Linked DNA regions of Homo sapiens. The protein of the gene in region 2 purifies or fractionates together with the protein of the main gene of each other region. This does not show direct contact. Each region holds a gene or a part of one and is shown on either strand. Other genes may lie near its edges.

The links. The genes of interacting proteins can lie anywhere in the genome.
Region 1: the proteins of CHST9 (region 2) and LRP5 purify together in Homo sapiens (affinity purification with mass spectrometry; 3 studies listed by BioGRID and IntAct, with this or other methods). This does not show direct contact.

What each region holds. Positions count from the first base shown.
Region 1 is NC_000011.10:68,308,013-68,315,649, reverse strand, and holds the start of LRP5 (low-density lipoprotein receptor-related protein 5 isoform 1 precursor), read right to left. Parts: upstream 3,060-7,637; 5' UTR 2,936-3,059; coding exon 2,845-2,935; intron 2,202-2,844; exon of another isoform or gene 1-2,201. UniProt on the Homo sapiens protein: Acts as a coreceptor with members of the frizzled family of seven-transmembrane spanning receptors to transduce signal by Wnt proteins.
Region 2 is NC_000018.10:27,182,261-27,189,500, forward strand, and holds the start of CHST9 (carbohydrate sulfotransferase 9), read right to left. Parts: upstream 3,049-7,240; 5' UTR 2,876-3,048; intron 1-2,875. UniProt on the Homo sapiens protein: Catalyzes the transfer of sulfate to position 4 of non-reducing N-acetylgalactosamine (GalNAc) residues in both N-glycans and O-glycans.

The sequences.
Region 1 (7,637 bases), on a different chromosome or scaffold from region 2:
TAGCACTTCACTCGGTAGCAGACACCAAAGCAAAACAGCAACAGCATTATACCGGGCCAGGTGCACGTTAACTCACTGAATTCATGGTAGGAAGGATTCTATTCCCATTTTACAGGTGAGAAAACTGAGGCACACAAAGGTAGCATCAGCTTCCTAAGCCTCCCAGCACAGGAAGCGGCCAGGCTGGAATCAGACCCTGGGCGCAGGGGCTCTGTCCACAGTGCTAACTAACTACTCCTGCCCCCGAGGGCTGCAGCGGTGAGTGAGTGAGTTTGTCAGTGGACTGGATGTCCAAGGTCATACAGGAAAAATCCAGACTATTGTAATAACAGCCTCTAGACCGGCTGGGGCCAGAAAGATCGAGGACGCTGACACACAACTGCGCTCACTGCAGCTCTGCCAGGGATGGGGCTAAAGGTCTCACACAGGGCAGTTAGGGCTCCCCATAGCCTGGGAGAGGAACGGGGTGAGATAACAGAAACTAGGTATGGTGCCCGAAGTCAAACAGCCACTGAGCATGTAAACCCAGGTGGGTCTGACCCCAAACCCCTCCACCCCCATCAGCCCTGCAACCCGTCGCTGCAAGGGAGAAAGCAACTCAGAGGCCTCACCTGCCTACATCCCCCACCCGTGTGTGTGAGTTCTACTAAATGCCTGAGCAGTGACACAGCACGGCTGAAATTAAACGGGTTCCAAAAACGACAGGAAGCACGAGGTGAATCTCCCCAGGAAAGTGCTGAACAAATGCTGGATCGGGTTCACCGGCGAATTTCTTGGAACTGAAGAGGGGAGCTAAACACACGGGGCCCTGCTTTGGAGGGGACTCTCTCAGGGTGCTCCACACAGCACTTGGTTAACCCCACTCAGCCCTTCTGGGCTCTCCCAGAGGGCCCGGCCTTGGCCTTGGGCATCTACAGGAGGAACCTCCAGGGGGAGAGGGGGTGCCTGGACAGGCCGGCCCTGGAACAAGCACTTGGGCCCCGAGGAGAGAGGACTAGGGCTTGGGAGCTGGGGAAGTTCTCAGCACTGGGACCACTAGAACAAAGCCATTTCCGTGCGTTCACAGCTTCCAATTGCAACAGGAAGCAATCAGGAAAAATAATTAGCGGCCCACTTACTGGCTTCGCTGAGGTCCGAGGCATGTATTTCACACAGTAAAACCAGGGATATAACATCAAAACCGTTCTGCAGAAAGATTCCTCCCTTTCCTTCCATTTTAGGCCTGGATCACCACATTCACTGGGGCTCCCAGGCCTTGCTGCCTAATGTTAAAATAATCAACTCTATTTTTGCCTCACACACAACTGAACTCTACAGCTATAATTCTTTCTCCTCAGGGGCTCGAACCACATGGACGACAGGCATTTGACTCCAGCAACATCACCCCAAAACGTGCACAAAACCCAAAACTGCAATGAGGTGAAAGGCAACGCGGTCGGCCTAGAAACCCCCCCTTTAAAACAAACAGTTTCCCCAAAACCCCTTTTGCCTCCTTGACCCAGGCATTTCCGGAAAAAGGAGCGGCGCTGGCCTGTACTCCCCAGATACTGTCGCTGTTTTGTCTTCACCTTGTTTTGCTAGCTCCAGACAAGGCCCCACAATGTAAACACGCTCCTGAAAGAGGCAGATTTGGGGTGAAACTGTCCATAGAATCTCTAGGCTTGGGTCAGAGGCAGGAGGACGTGAAACAAACTCCAAGCTCCTCCTGTTCCCCGCTGTCCCCCACACCTCCAAGCAGAGGCTGCAGCCTGGGGGATCTGACTACAGGGCCACCCCGCTGCACCATTCACACTGGAAATATTCAGGGAGACAGCTGTTTGCCTTAAGGAGGCCCAGACAAAGGGGCCCGAGGTCCTCCCCGCTAAACTGCCACAAACAGAACAGGAGCCGCGGCGTGCACAGGCACTTGCGGCCGTGCCACTTGGCCAGCCATACTCCAGAAAAACAAAACACGCACATCCGAAGAGAATGATTTAGGTAGCAAGAGGCTTGCTTGAAAAACCACATGGCAATCTCCAAATTAAAAGAACATGTGTAGCGTTTCACGACTGCTTAAGTTTCCTGAGTCCTCCTGACCTCAACTCCACCCCCTGGGAAACACCAAAAGTTGGAGAGAAAGTTCCCCCGCCCTACCTCTCCCCACGGGAGTGTACAACTGAGGCACAAGCCTGCCTCCCCCACTGCCCCGCGATCTGGGACCACGTCACCTCCGCGTAGCCGACCCGGGGATGGACACTATCTGGGGACCCGGCGGCCACACGGGGCATTCGGGTCGCCCGGGCACCTGGCAGGTGTCAGTCCGCTTGGAAACCCACAGCCACGCGGCTCACAGGAGCAGCGCCACCGGCCAGGCCGCCCCGCGCCCGGGCTCAGAACTTTCTCGCTGCAACTTCAGCCCGTCCTCGGAGCACGCGGGGCGGCCGCGCGGCCGCTGGAAACAGGCTTGCGAACCGGCTCCCCGGGCCAGGCCCGCCTCCGCGCCCCAAGTCCCCGCTCGGTGCCCGGCCCGGGCCACACGGGCCCAGCGCGGGCTCGGCTCGGCTCCCGGCTTCCCGCGGGCTCGGGCAGGTGAGGACCCGCCCGCGCCGCACCTGGCGGAGCGGGCGCCCTCCTCGCCAGCCCGGGACGCAGCGTCCCCGGGGAGGGCCCGGGTGGGGAGACAAAGGGCCCGCGCGTGGCGGGGACGCCGGGGACGGCAGGGGGATCCCGGGCGCGCGCCCCAACTCGCTCCCAACTCGCCAAGTCGCTTCCGAGACGGCGGCGGCGCCCGCGCACTTGGCCGCGGGGCCGCCCGGGCCATTGTCCGAGCAACCCGCGGCCCCCGGCCGGCCTGCGCCCACCTACCCGCGGCGGGGGCCGGGCAGCCGCACAGCGCCAGCAGCAGCAGCAGCAGCAGCAGCAGCGGCCACGGCGGCCCGGGCGGCGCTGCCTCCATGTTGTCCGGCGGCCGGACGGGCCCGCGCCGCGCTCACTCGGGCTCCATGGCGCGGCGGCGGCGGCTCCTCGCGCGGCTCCCGGCGCCTCCGCCTCCCCCCTCGGGCGCCGCGGACCAGGACGACGGGGAGGAGGGAGCTGGGCGCGCGGGAGCGGAAGCCGCGCCGCGTCTCCGCCCCCCGCCGCCGCCACCCGCGCCCCCCGCACCGGCCGCGCCCTCCCGCGGGCGCCCCCCGGAGCCGGCCGGCGGCCAGGCGGCCCCAGCGGCGCAGGTCCCCGCGGCCCCTCCCCGCGCTCCCCGCCCTGCCCTGGAGGTGCCTCCGGGAGGCTTGGCGCGGGGTTTCCGCCCCGCGGGGCCCGGCGGCCGATCGGGGCCCGGAGCCAGGTGTGTCACCTGTGGAGCCTCTATGAGTGGGGAAACTGAGGCACGGAGCAGGGCGGGGTTGCCCAAGGGCACACAGCGAGGCAGTTTCAGGGCGGGCAGCCTGGGGCCCCACGGGGCGGCCCCGGACACTTGTTCTCACCTGTGGAGGGCAGAGAAGGGAACAGGGAGAGAAGTGGCCGGCTGGGAGTGGAGGTGGGTTTGAGGTTTTACTGTAAACTAAATGTGTACCCTCTACCTTAGTTATGAATTATGAGACACGAAGACTGCGAAACAGACACACTCCTCTAAAAGTGCCTCTAGGCTGACAGGGAGAAAGTCCCGCCAGGCTCCCAGACGCCACCTTTGAGTCCTTCAACAAGCCCGCCAGGGCCTCTTGCCCACCGGTGTCAGCTCAGCCACTGAACCCTCCAGGAAGAAGACGTGCTGGTAGGAGAAGAATCTCACCCAGGCACAGCCTGGAAGGGGCACAGAAGGGGCTCTGGAACCAGCAAGCCCAAGTTGGAACTCCCAGTCTGCTACTTTCTAGAACGACTGTGCCCTTGGCGGGTCTAAGTAGAACCTCTCCGCGCACTCTTTCCTCCTTTGTAAAGTGGGGACAGCAATGGCCACCTTGCAGGTTCAGAGAGGGCTTGCAGTACCTCACAGAACTGAGTGCCCGTGAACGTGTGTGTTCCTCCAGATTTGTGACAGCTTTGCCAGGCTGGAGTCAGGCTGAACGCCTCTGCCCTCATGGGGTTTATATTCTAGGAAGACCAACAAAAACAAGAAGACGGAAAATTAAAACAACAAAAGCCCCATTGACAGGCCATGAAGAATGCCATGAGAAATGAAGGGCGTTGTGCTGCAGTGTTTGGGGAAACTGGCTTAGGGAAGGAAGGACACTTGAGCTGCTACCAAGGAGCAGCCGTCCGGTGGGAGGGCAGTTCAGGAAGAGCAGACATCCACGGAGGAGGCGCTGGGGCAGAGGGCAGCCTGGTCGCTGGATTCGGGGGAGGAACCACATCAGGCCATGAGCTGGAGCTGGTGGTAGAAGGTACAGGAGAGGCCAGCCAGGGCCAGCACATGTCAGACCTCAGGCGGGGAAGAGGAATCGAGAATGCACCCCACGAGCAATGGGAAGCCAGGCTAGGATTTAAGCAGCAAAAATATTTTCCCTTCTTCCACCCTGCATCCAGCTCTACCAGCACAGCCTGGGGTTCTATTTTCAAGATAGAAGAGACCCAGACTCCCAGCTCTTCTTACACTTCTACTACTGCCACCTGTCACCCACTCATGCGTCCCCACTTGCAGCCTCGACCCCCTTCCACCTGATCTCATGGCAGCCAGGGAAGCTCCAGGGCTCGTGAGGGCTGCCATCTCAGGAAAGAAGCAAAAGCCTTCGGCACCTGCAGGGCCTGCTCCAACCACACTTCTTCCTTGACCTCTCAGCTTCCTTAGCCACTCCCTTCCCACATCTCACCCTGCTCCAGCCACAGTGGTGTCTCTGTGGGTTCTCAAACACACCAGGTGCACTCCTGCCTCAGGGCCTTTGTGCTTGCTGTTCTCTGCTGGGACTCTTTTTTTTTTTTTTTTTTTTGAGACAGGGTCTCACTCTGTGGCCCAGGCTGGAGTGTAGTGGTGTGATCGTAGCTCATTGCAACCTCAAACTCCTGGGCTCAAGCAATCCTCCCACCTCAGCCTCTCAAGTAGTTAGCTTTTGTTGTTTTGTTTTGAGATGGGATCTCACTCTGTTGCCCAGGCTGGAGTGCAGTGGGGCAATCTTGGCTCACCACAACCTCTGCCTCCCAGGCTCAAGCAATTCTCCTGCCTCAGCCTCCCAAGTAGCTGGGATTACAGGCATGTGCCACCACGCCCAGCTTATTTTTGTATTTTTAGTAGAGACAGGGTTTCACCATGTTGGTCTGGCTGGTCTTGAACTCCTGGCCTCAGATGATCCACCTGCCTCGGCCTCCCAAAGTGCTGGGATGACAGGCATGAGCCTGTCTCTAGTAGTTAGGACTACAGAGAGGGGCCATCATGCCTGGTGATCCTCCCACCTTTTCTGCTCCAACTCTTTCACCCCACTTAGCCTCGTGGCTCACTCTCTTACCTCTTCAGCTCCTCAGTCAGGCCTGAGGACCCCTGTTGAAAATTGCAAACCACACCCCCCACCACCACCACCCACTATTGCCAGCACTTTCTACTCCATTTCTCTGCTTTACTTTTCTCCTTTGTACTCATCACCACCTGACTCATTACATGTTTACGTATCTTTCTTCTCTCCACTAGCATGGAAGCTCCAGGAGAGCAGAGAGTGTAGTTTTATTCCCTGATGTGTTTCCTGTGCCCGTACCAGGGCCTAGCACACAGTAGGTGCTCAGTAAATGTGTGTTGGATGAACAAATACAGTGAAAGGATCTGATCTACATTTATAAAGAAGGCACTCTGGCTGCTGAGTGGGGATGAGACTGTCAGGAGGAAAGAGGCCCCTGTGGGGGCCTGGCCAGCAGGTGGGTACAATGGTAGCAGCCAGGAGAGAGGGCCTCTTGGACTCAAGTGGATGGGGCCTGCTCAGGGCTCCAGCCACAGGAACAAAGGGAAGGGGGCCCAGGATGGCCTGTCATAGAGGACACATTACAACTGGCCCAAAGTTCAAGTCAGGTTTCTAAATTTGGGAAGGGATACAGAAAAACTAAAGACTCTACTGGACAGTCAGTTATTGAAATGATTACATAGAAAATGTACCAAGAATTAAAAAAAAAAAAAAAAAAGCATTATGAAGGGGCCACCAGAGACTCCCAGAGAGGAAAGGGACTATGGGCTGGATGCGGTGACTCACACCTATAATCCCAGCACTTTGGGAGGCCGAGGAGGGTGGATCACGAGGTCAGGAGTTCAAGACCAGCCTAGGCAACATGGTAAAACCCCCGTTTCTACTAAAAATACAAAAAATTAGCTGGGCATGGCAGCATGTGCCTGTAATCCCAGCTACTCGGGAGGCTGAGGCAGGAGAGTTGCTAGAACCCAGGAGGCAGAGGTTGCAGTGAGCCGAGATTGAGCCACTATGCTCCAGCTTGGGCGACAGAGCAAGACTCCGTCTCTAAAAAAAAGAAAAAAAAGGCCAGATGAGGTGGCTCATGCCTGTAATCCCAGCACTTTGGGAGGCCGAGGTGGGTGGATCACGAGGTCAGGAGATCGAGACCATCCTGGCTAACATGGTGAAACTCCATCTCTACTTAAAATACAAAAAATTAGCCGGGCGTGGTGGCGGGCACCTGTAGTCCCAGCTACTTGGGAGGCTGAGGCAGGAGAATGGCGTGAACCTGGGAGGCGGAGCTTGCAGTGAGCCGAGATTGCGCCACTGCACTCCATCCAGCCTGGGCGACAGAGTTAGACTCCGTCTCAAAAAAAAAAAAAAAAAAAAAAAATTAGCTGATTAGTTGGGCTTGGTGGCGGGCGCCTGTAATCCCAACTACTCGGGAGGCTGAGGCGGGAGAATCACTTGAACCCGGGAGGCAGAGGTTGCAATGAGCCGATATCACGCCACTACACTCCAGCCTGGGCGACAGAGCAAGACTCCATCTCAAAAAAGAAAAAAAAAAAGAAAGGGGCTGTGCTGTGGCCTGGGACCCAAAGCACACTACTGCAAGGTCCCAGGGTGCCTGACTCCAACCGGAGCCTTGAGAACATTCATTTGCAAAGAATGAATTAAAATTCAGCACTATTTTATTCTGCAGGATTCCAGCACCCCAAGGACAGTCATTTTTAGACCCTTCAGTAACGTAATAAGTAACCGGAGGATGTGCTGAGCTTCCACTTCCCCAGACGGTTGCCTGTCACAGCTCATCAGGCCAACAAACTTTTCTTAGGCCTCAAATTTGGAAATGTTCACTCTCAGTTCGTTCCTTAGATGCAAGTCCATCCCAATGAAGTAACAGGGGCTCAGCACCTGTCCAATCTCATTGCTTCCGGGGACAGGGGCCCATGAGGATGTCGTTTCAGCCCGGTGACACTTGGGCAAAGTGCCTTTTGGTTTCCCTCCCAGGCTGGAACGTGCTGGCTCTGTGAAGTTACGCTGGGCACAAGAGCCCCCCCCAACCCGGCAGGACTGACTGCTGTGGTCAGAGGCGCCCCTGGGGCTTTGGGAGCCACAGAATCTTCCTGAGGGCAGCGCCGGAGGAGGCCCCAGTGAGAGTGCCCACTGCCAGGCTCATTCCTCAGGCTGCCGCAGGCCTCTCCCCAAAACAGGCAATGCTTCTCAGCAACCTGCCCCAGGAGCAGGCCAGGGAAGGCCGCCATCGGCCTACAGTGCTGGGCTCTGGAGGGCTTGGTTGGTAAC
Region 2 (7,240 bases):
TATATTTTTAAAGGCAACTTTACTTTCAAAATTATCTGTAGTTTGGGTTTATTCTGTCCAAAGCCATTCTTCTAAGTTAGGAGAATCTTAACGCTTTCAGGGAAAAGAGCAGTATAGAACACTGTAGCTGGTGATAATGGCCCACTTTTTCTTGGTTCCTGATAATCTTCAAGTACACATCAATTATTTGCAAAGTGTGAAAAAGATCATCACTATCTTTTTCCTCAAAAAATATGAAAATGCTTTGGGACATTGCACCCATATTTGAGTGAAAAGAATTTTCCTAATGTGCTGGCTAGGCTAAAGGAACAAAGGATGTATTATGTAACTTAATTTGGAATGATAAAATACCGTAATATTGAAGCTCTAATTAGAGCAAACACCCCTAAATGGGAAATCTTTCTTGGATAGGGAACTGAATATCTCAAATCTTGCTTTATTGATGACATCAACCAAACAAAGAGTGTGAATCTATCTGCTGATTACATCCCAACTCATCCAGATTCCCAAATACAAATATAAAGTATATAATAACAGGTAAACATGTTATTCATATCCTATCTCACATCCTATGCTATTCATATGCAATACTGATGTGGGAAACAATGTGTATTTCTTAGGTTTACTGAATTTGGAATTTGTAAGAGTAAGTTAGTCTCTTATTTTGTAAATTCTTCCTTGGAAGATGTTACATTCTCCTGGAAACCATACTAAGTTTCTGAAGTCACAGGGCTTTTTAATGCACTTCTTCAGAGCATCAAATGCTACCCTTGTGACCAGGAAGAAAGGAAAAGAAGGTCATCAGGAGGGCCCTGCAGCTGCACTAATTTCTAGCTTCTCTCTGTTAACAAAAAGGTGGGGGGTGGGGGGAAAGCAATCAGATTTTTACTGGAGTATACACCAGCCTTGGCCAAGTGCTTTGAAACTTTTAGAATGTCTTCTTTCATTGAAAATAAAAGAAGCAGAGCTTATGGTGTAATAAGCCAAACACAACAGTTACTGAACTTGAGTCAACATTGGATACCATTACAGCTTTCAGGATAGTCATGGGAATGTATGAAATGAGTAAGTACGTTTTGATACCTGTGAAAATAAAACATTGTGCTGTAAGTGAGTGGGAGAGAACAGATGGTTGGTAATGATTTAAAACATTTATGTTTTTGGACTATCACCAAGCCTCTGTATTAAAAAATATGGTGTTTAGTTAGTACATACCAACATCTATATGCAAGGTGCTCATTTTCTGGAGGACGGTACTGTAATGAAGGGGATAAAAACCAAATGAGGTAAGAGGAACATTCTTCTCGTTTTCTGGGGGCATTCAGTGTGTGCTATTTCTTATTGACGATATGCAATCTAAATGTTTTCCATATGATGAGAGGATTTTAATTTTTCCTCAATTACTAGTCAGCTGTAAGTGCCTAGGAATCATACTGTTTGATCGTATGGTGTAGAATTGTAATATTGTTTTGTAAATTTGATTCACTTTGATTGAAGCTCTTACACCCTTTGAGCAATAATAAAAAGTGGTAGTTCAGGGTGCTCTTGCCCATGAAAAACAATAGCATTCACCTTATCCTCACGTTGGTTGGCAGGCATATGGTGTTATGATTAGGTACTGGAATTAACAGGTGCCAGCCAACTGAATCAGAAGACAGATAAATACTAAATATGGTCACAATGCATTTGGATGTGTATATGTGAGTTGAAAAGAGGCCCCTGTCCTTCAAACCGAGAGGAATAATAACAATGTAAATAAAATTGTACAAAGATAGATTAATGCAATTCTGAGGTTAAAGCGAAGAAAAATAAACATTGGTAATACTCTCAATTATCAGAAAAACTGCGAAAAGGGAGTCCTGTTAAGCATCCACGGCGTTTTGATTTGGATCTGATAGCATAATAGGGAGAAAAAAGTCACACACACACATTGTGTATTATTCACTTGCCATCGCTTTCAAAACGCTGGGGATTATTCAGGCACAGTATGTTTGTGGGAGGGAGCTGGGGGTGGACCGCAGAGAGAGAGAAAGGAGGAAGGCCTGCAGCTCTAGACTTAGCACCTGTGAACTTAGTTGGAAATAACTCCTGACAGACATCAACCATAACACCTTCTAACAGAAACATGCTGATAGGCAGGATGTTCAAACGGGGCAGAAGAGGGAGCAGGCAACCCTGTGAAAGTAACAGCAGCAGAAACAAACACACCATTCCTTCTCCCCGCAACCCACTTGGAGCCCCTCCTCAGATCGCCCCTCCCAACCCCTCTGCTCTGGCCACGATCGCACCTGGCCTCCCGGTCCCCCTAACTTCCCTCCCACCTCTCCCGCAGCCTGCGCCTGAGCCTGAGCCAGGTCGCGGAGTTTGAGACTGACGCAAAGGAGGCACCCCCGCAGCAGAGATGCTCGTCTTTCTGCCACACACCCTGGAGGACCCGACAGACTGGCAGCAGAAACTAAAGACTGTTCCTGCCGTCCTCTTTCCAACCTCTGCATGCCCCAAGAGGGGTCTGACCCCGGAATCCTGGAGTCCAGGGTGCCCCGCCGGGGCGCAGGAAGGAAACTCAGGTAGCTGACAAGTTCAGGCGGCCGTCCTTCTCCAGCGCCCCCTCAAAGTCAGGATCCCCTCCTGCTCCCGCCCCCCACCTCCCGCCATGCGTCCACTGAAGTGAAGGGAAGTGGGTTGGAATACTGGAGGTAGGGGAGATAGAAAAAGGAAGAAGCCTCCCGCATCTCCAGCGGCGAAGCACCTGGAAAGGTGAGGGCGCACGTCCCCGCCCACCAGAGCCCGCTCCCGGCGCGGGTACCCAGCAGCGCGCCATCATCTCTGCCCCTCCAGTGCCCCCCAGCCCCAACCCCAGCCCCAGCGCGGTTACCTCGCGGGCCGCTGCCGGGCGCTTGCAGGTGCTGCTGTTCCAGGAGCGCAGCTTCGGAGGAAACTTCCCCGCGCTCCGGGGCAAACTCCCGCGCACTCCTGGCAGCCGTGAGGTGGCTGAGAGCGGAGCGCCGCGCCGGGAGCGGGGACAGCTCGGAGTCGGGCGCTCACCCTGGCCCTGACCCTCCCGCGTCCGGCCCGGCTGGGGCTGCGGCGCCGCCTCCGCGCCCGCTCCCGCCCGCGCCCCCGCCCCCGCCCGCCCGGGCAGCTCCGCCTCCCTCTTTTTCTCTCCCTCGCCCCCGCTGCCCGCCCTGCCTTCTCCAGCTCTGCCTTTGTGGCTCTCTGGTCCCCTCTTTCCTCTGACTTTCTGGCCTCGCCTCCGCTGGCGACTCGCCCTCCCAGCCCCGCGTGCCAGGGCTCAGGTGCCACCCCATGCCCAGTCGAGGAAGTGATTACCCTAGCAGTTCTTTCCCAATTCGCCCTCTCCTCTCCCCTGCGCTGGGGTCTTCTCCTAGCTTTTCTAGAAACCCAGTTCTGAGGAACACGTCCATAGGTTAGAAGGCTGTCGCAAACGTTAACTCCAAAGTCAAAATGTGTTTTGCTTTACAGACAGGAGGTGATGTTCGTTTGTTTATTTTAATACATCAATTATAATAGATCAATAAAGTGCTTGTTGTAAGTACGGCTAAGTTCAGCAGCAGGTTTGTGTAAACCAGGGCTCCCTCAAAATGAGCATAGTACCCATTTATAATGTTCAAGACCTAGGAGATTTCTCAGGCCACGCATTTCAAAATCGAACAAGCTGAAGTTGGCGGTTTTAAAGGGCTTTGCAAAGACCAACACTAGAATAACATTTTTAAATCATTAAAGGAAACACCAGGCTTTGGGAGGCCCAGGCGGGAGGATCACTTGAAGCTAGGAGTAAAAGGCTGCAGTGAGCTCTGATCCTGCCACTGCCCTCCAGCCTGGGCAACAGAGCAAGACCTTGTCTTGAAAGAAAGAAAGAGAGAGAAAAGAAAAAATAAAAATGGTTCATTCAGGTTTAAAAATTAGTTCTAAACATTATTCTATCAACAATTTGACCAAACTAGGGCAAATAAAAATAAATGAATCCTTGATTGCTTATTTTGCATTCAGATGATTTCTATAAATTAACAAAGAAAAACTCAACTATTTTTTTAAAAGCATTAACTAGTTAAACCTACCTTATTACGACATTAGAATTTTGTTGTTGCTTTTGCTGAAACTGAAATATTAGCCTTATGCACTTCCAGTAGGTCTTATTCTTATTAATGGTTTAGTAATAACACATCTGGTAGTAGTGAACTTTGGTTCTTTGAAGAATTACCATTATAGGACTTGTTTGCCTGATGCAGGTTTCTTTTTAAACAGAAGCTGATTTATTATTCTGTCACAAGTGTTTTATTTTCATGCATTTTTAAAAATTGGGGTAAACACCACATTTTTATCATTTTTAATGTACAGTTCAGTAGTGTTAACATACAGTCACATTGCTTTAAAATAGATCTTCAGAATTTCTTCATCTTGCAAACCTGAAACTTTGTCCATCAAACAGCTCCCCCTTTTCCTCTCCCCTCTAGCACTTGGTAATTACCATCCTACCTTTTGCTTCTATGAATTTGACAATGTTAGATCTCTGATATGATTAATATCCAGAATATATAAAGAGCTCCTATAACTCAGCAACAAAAAGTCAAATAACCTGATACAAATGGGCAAAGGACTTGAATAGACATAAGAGTTTAATTTTTAAAATTTGTATATTTGCTGGGGTTTTTTTGTTTTATAGATTTCTTTTTATTTCAGCTTAATTGTAAAGGAGTTTTAAAGTTATCAATGCCATATAAACACACTATTGAAAATTTGGAAAATTGAAAAAGAGTAAACAAATCATTCCACAAGCAAACCATTGTAATACAACTTGCTGATTTGTTATTAACTTTTAACCCAGAGTCAGTCCTTCATATGGGGAAAATCCTCATTCTCCAATAGAATAAATGTTTCCTGAGTTGAAAGAAACAAGCTAGTGTTCCCTGAGCTGTATTTAACTGACACATGCCTGGTAGGCAATTGATGAGCGCTCCTTGAATGAACTAACCATTTAACTTACTCGCTCTTGGTTTGGTTCCCTGTGTATCCATCCATGTTCTATGAATTCTTGGAGTTGGTACTATCCATTATATCACAGCAGTGAGGAAATTCAGGCCAACCTGATAATACATGAACTCTACTTCTAGGCTGTTGCAAAACATGCAAATTTTTTAGCCTGTGCCTTTCAGAAGTTGAGCAAGAATATCATTAGAACTGTATTTGAATATAGTTCTATGCTTAAAATGGGCATAAATTGAAAAGTTTTAGTAGCTAACGGGGGAATTGGGCATGATCAGATCAACTTATTGAATTTGCTTGATTGATGAGCTACTAGGCATTGCTAGTCCATTATGGGGTTTCCAGTCTTTAGAATCTATTTTATTCACTTATCTATCACAGCAAATCAAATATTTAGAACTGTGGCTGTCTTTCATTCCTAGACCTCTGTTTAAAACTGATTTTAAAAATTTGAAGAATTACTATTATAGAAAATTGAATATTGTTAATATCCAAGGTTGATGAATAAAGGATCAAAAAATTACCTAAAATGTATACCAAGCACCAGTATAAGATGCATGTTCTCATGCCATTTGATTGGGAGTTATATTGTTATGTGAAAATATTACCTTTTAATTTTGTAGTTAAACTAATTTAATTTTACACAGTGAATTATTTCTAAAACATTGATTAACAGCATGTTTCTAAACTCTCCAGTCTATTAATTTTGTTTAGTTCTTTCAATTTCTTAAAATGTTTAACTATTGACTGTTTCTGGGCAAGTGTGAAGCTTATGTATTGTTGATCCTTTAATGAATAGGTTGGTAACAATTATGGTCCATAAACGTGGTTTCTGCATCAAATCTCAAGGTACATTCAATAGCAAAAGTGCCTTCATAGAAGGAAGACTTCATCATTCTCAGGTTTATTTGGAAAAGGCATACAATGCTGATACCGCTAGGCTAAGCACAACAATAAAGTTAAACTTAACTTTGAAAGTATAACTAGTAGTATAAAGAATGACTTCAGTGAGCTGCTCATAGAGATGAAAAATGTGTGTAAGGTGACCTGGGGTAGAGAGGTAGGAAAAGAGTAAGAAAGGATATTTTCCTGGTTTCCTTATGTACCAAAAACAAACAAACAAACAAAAACAAAACAAAACAAAACAAAACTAATTTAAGGTATCAGCATGACACTGCTAAGGGATACTTCTTGCTATTTTTGAGTTTATGCTTTTCTCTAATTATGCCGGTGTTAATGATGACTTGGCTTAATTAATGGCCAAAGTCAAAATTCAGCAGAAATGCATTTAGCACAATATGCCAGGTCATGTGGGTGTTGCAAATACCTCTGAACCTTCTTATTTATGCCTCCAACTATTTTTTGAGGGAAAGCAGGGTTTTATTTATCTGGGAAGAGATATTTTTACACAAGTCAATAGAGGATAGTCCAGTAGCTACAGTAGTTTCCCTTTATCTTATCTTGCTTTTATTTTGCAGCATACGAGTAAAACTAGAAAAAAATGATAGAATGCGATTTATGTTGATTCCTGGTCAAGTGAACACAAGCCGGCCCACTGAACCAGAAGAAAAGAGTAATAGAACTCTTGAAAGAGAAGATAAAACCCACCGTATCCAGATATTGCTGGGAAGAAAAATAAAAACAACTATTAAAAATTTAAAATCACTTTTAGAAAGCTTCCTTGCATTAGTGCTATGAAATAGAAAGAGTCTTGGAGAACAGGATTTGTTCACGTTAAGTTGGGCAAGTCTTCTCTTCCTGGGCTCAGTTTCCTCATCTGCAGTGCATGAGGTCATTGAACTCCATAAGCCCTAAGGATCCTTCTGGTTTCAAAAATCCCATAACGTCTGATATAGAACACTTACCTTGACAAAGCTCTTCAAGTCATTTTCACCTTCACATATTGATTTATCTGTGTAGTGACATTTAAAGTGAATTCTAATCAGGAAATAAAAGGCTGATTTCTTCAGTAGAAGAAATTGACAATAAAAAAATGTGAATACAAGAGAGAAACAAAGGCCTGATTACCAGAAGTCGATCTATAGGATACAGAATGTGGCATTGTACAAAGTAGAAATTCCTTTCTAAAATTTAAGAAGAAATCATTGTAACATCAGGAATAAACAGGAAAAAGGAGAAAGCATTAAGATTTTCCAGTCAAGGAGAGATCTGGAAACATAATGATTTACCTCCTGCCATAGCAAGCATGGTATAGCAAATTTTATGATTTGGGGTT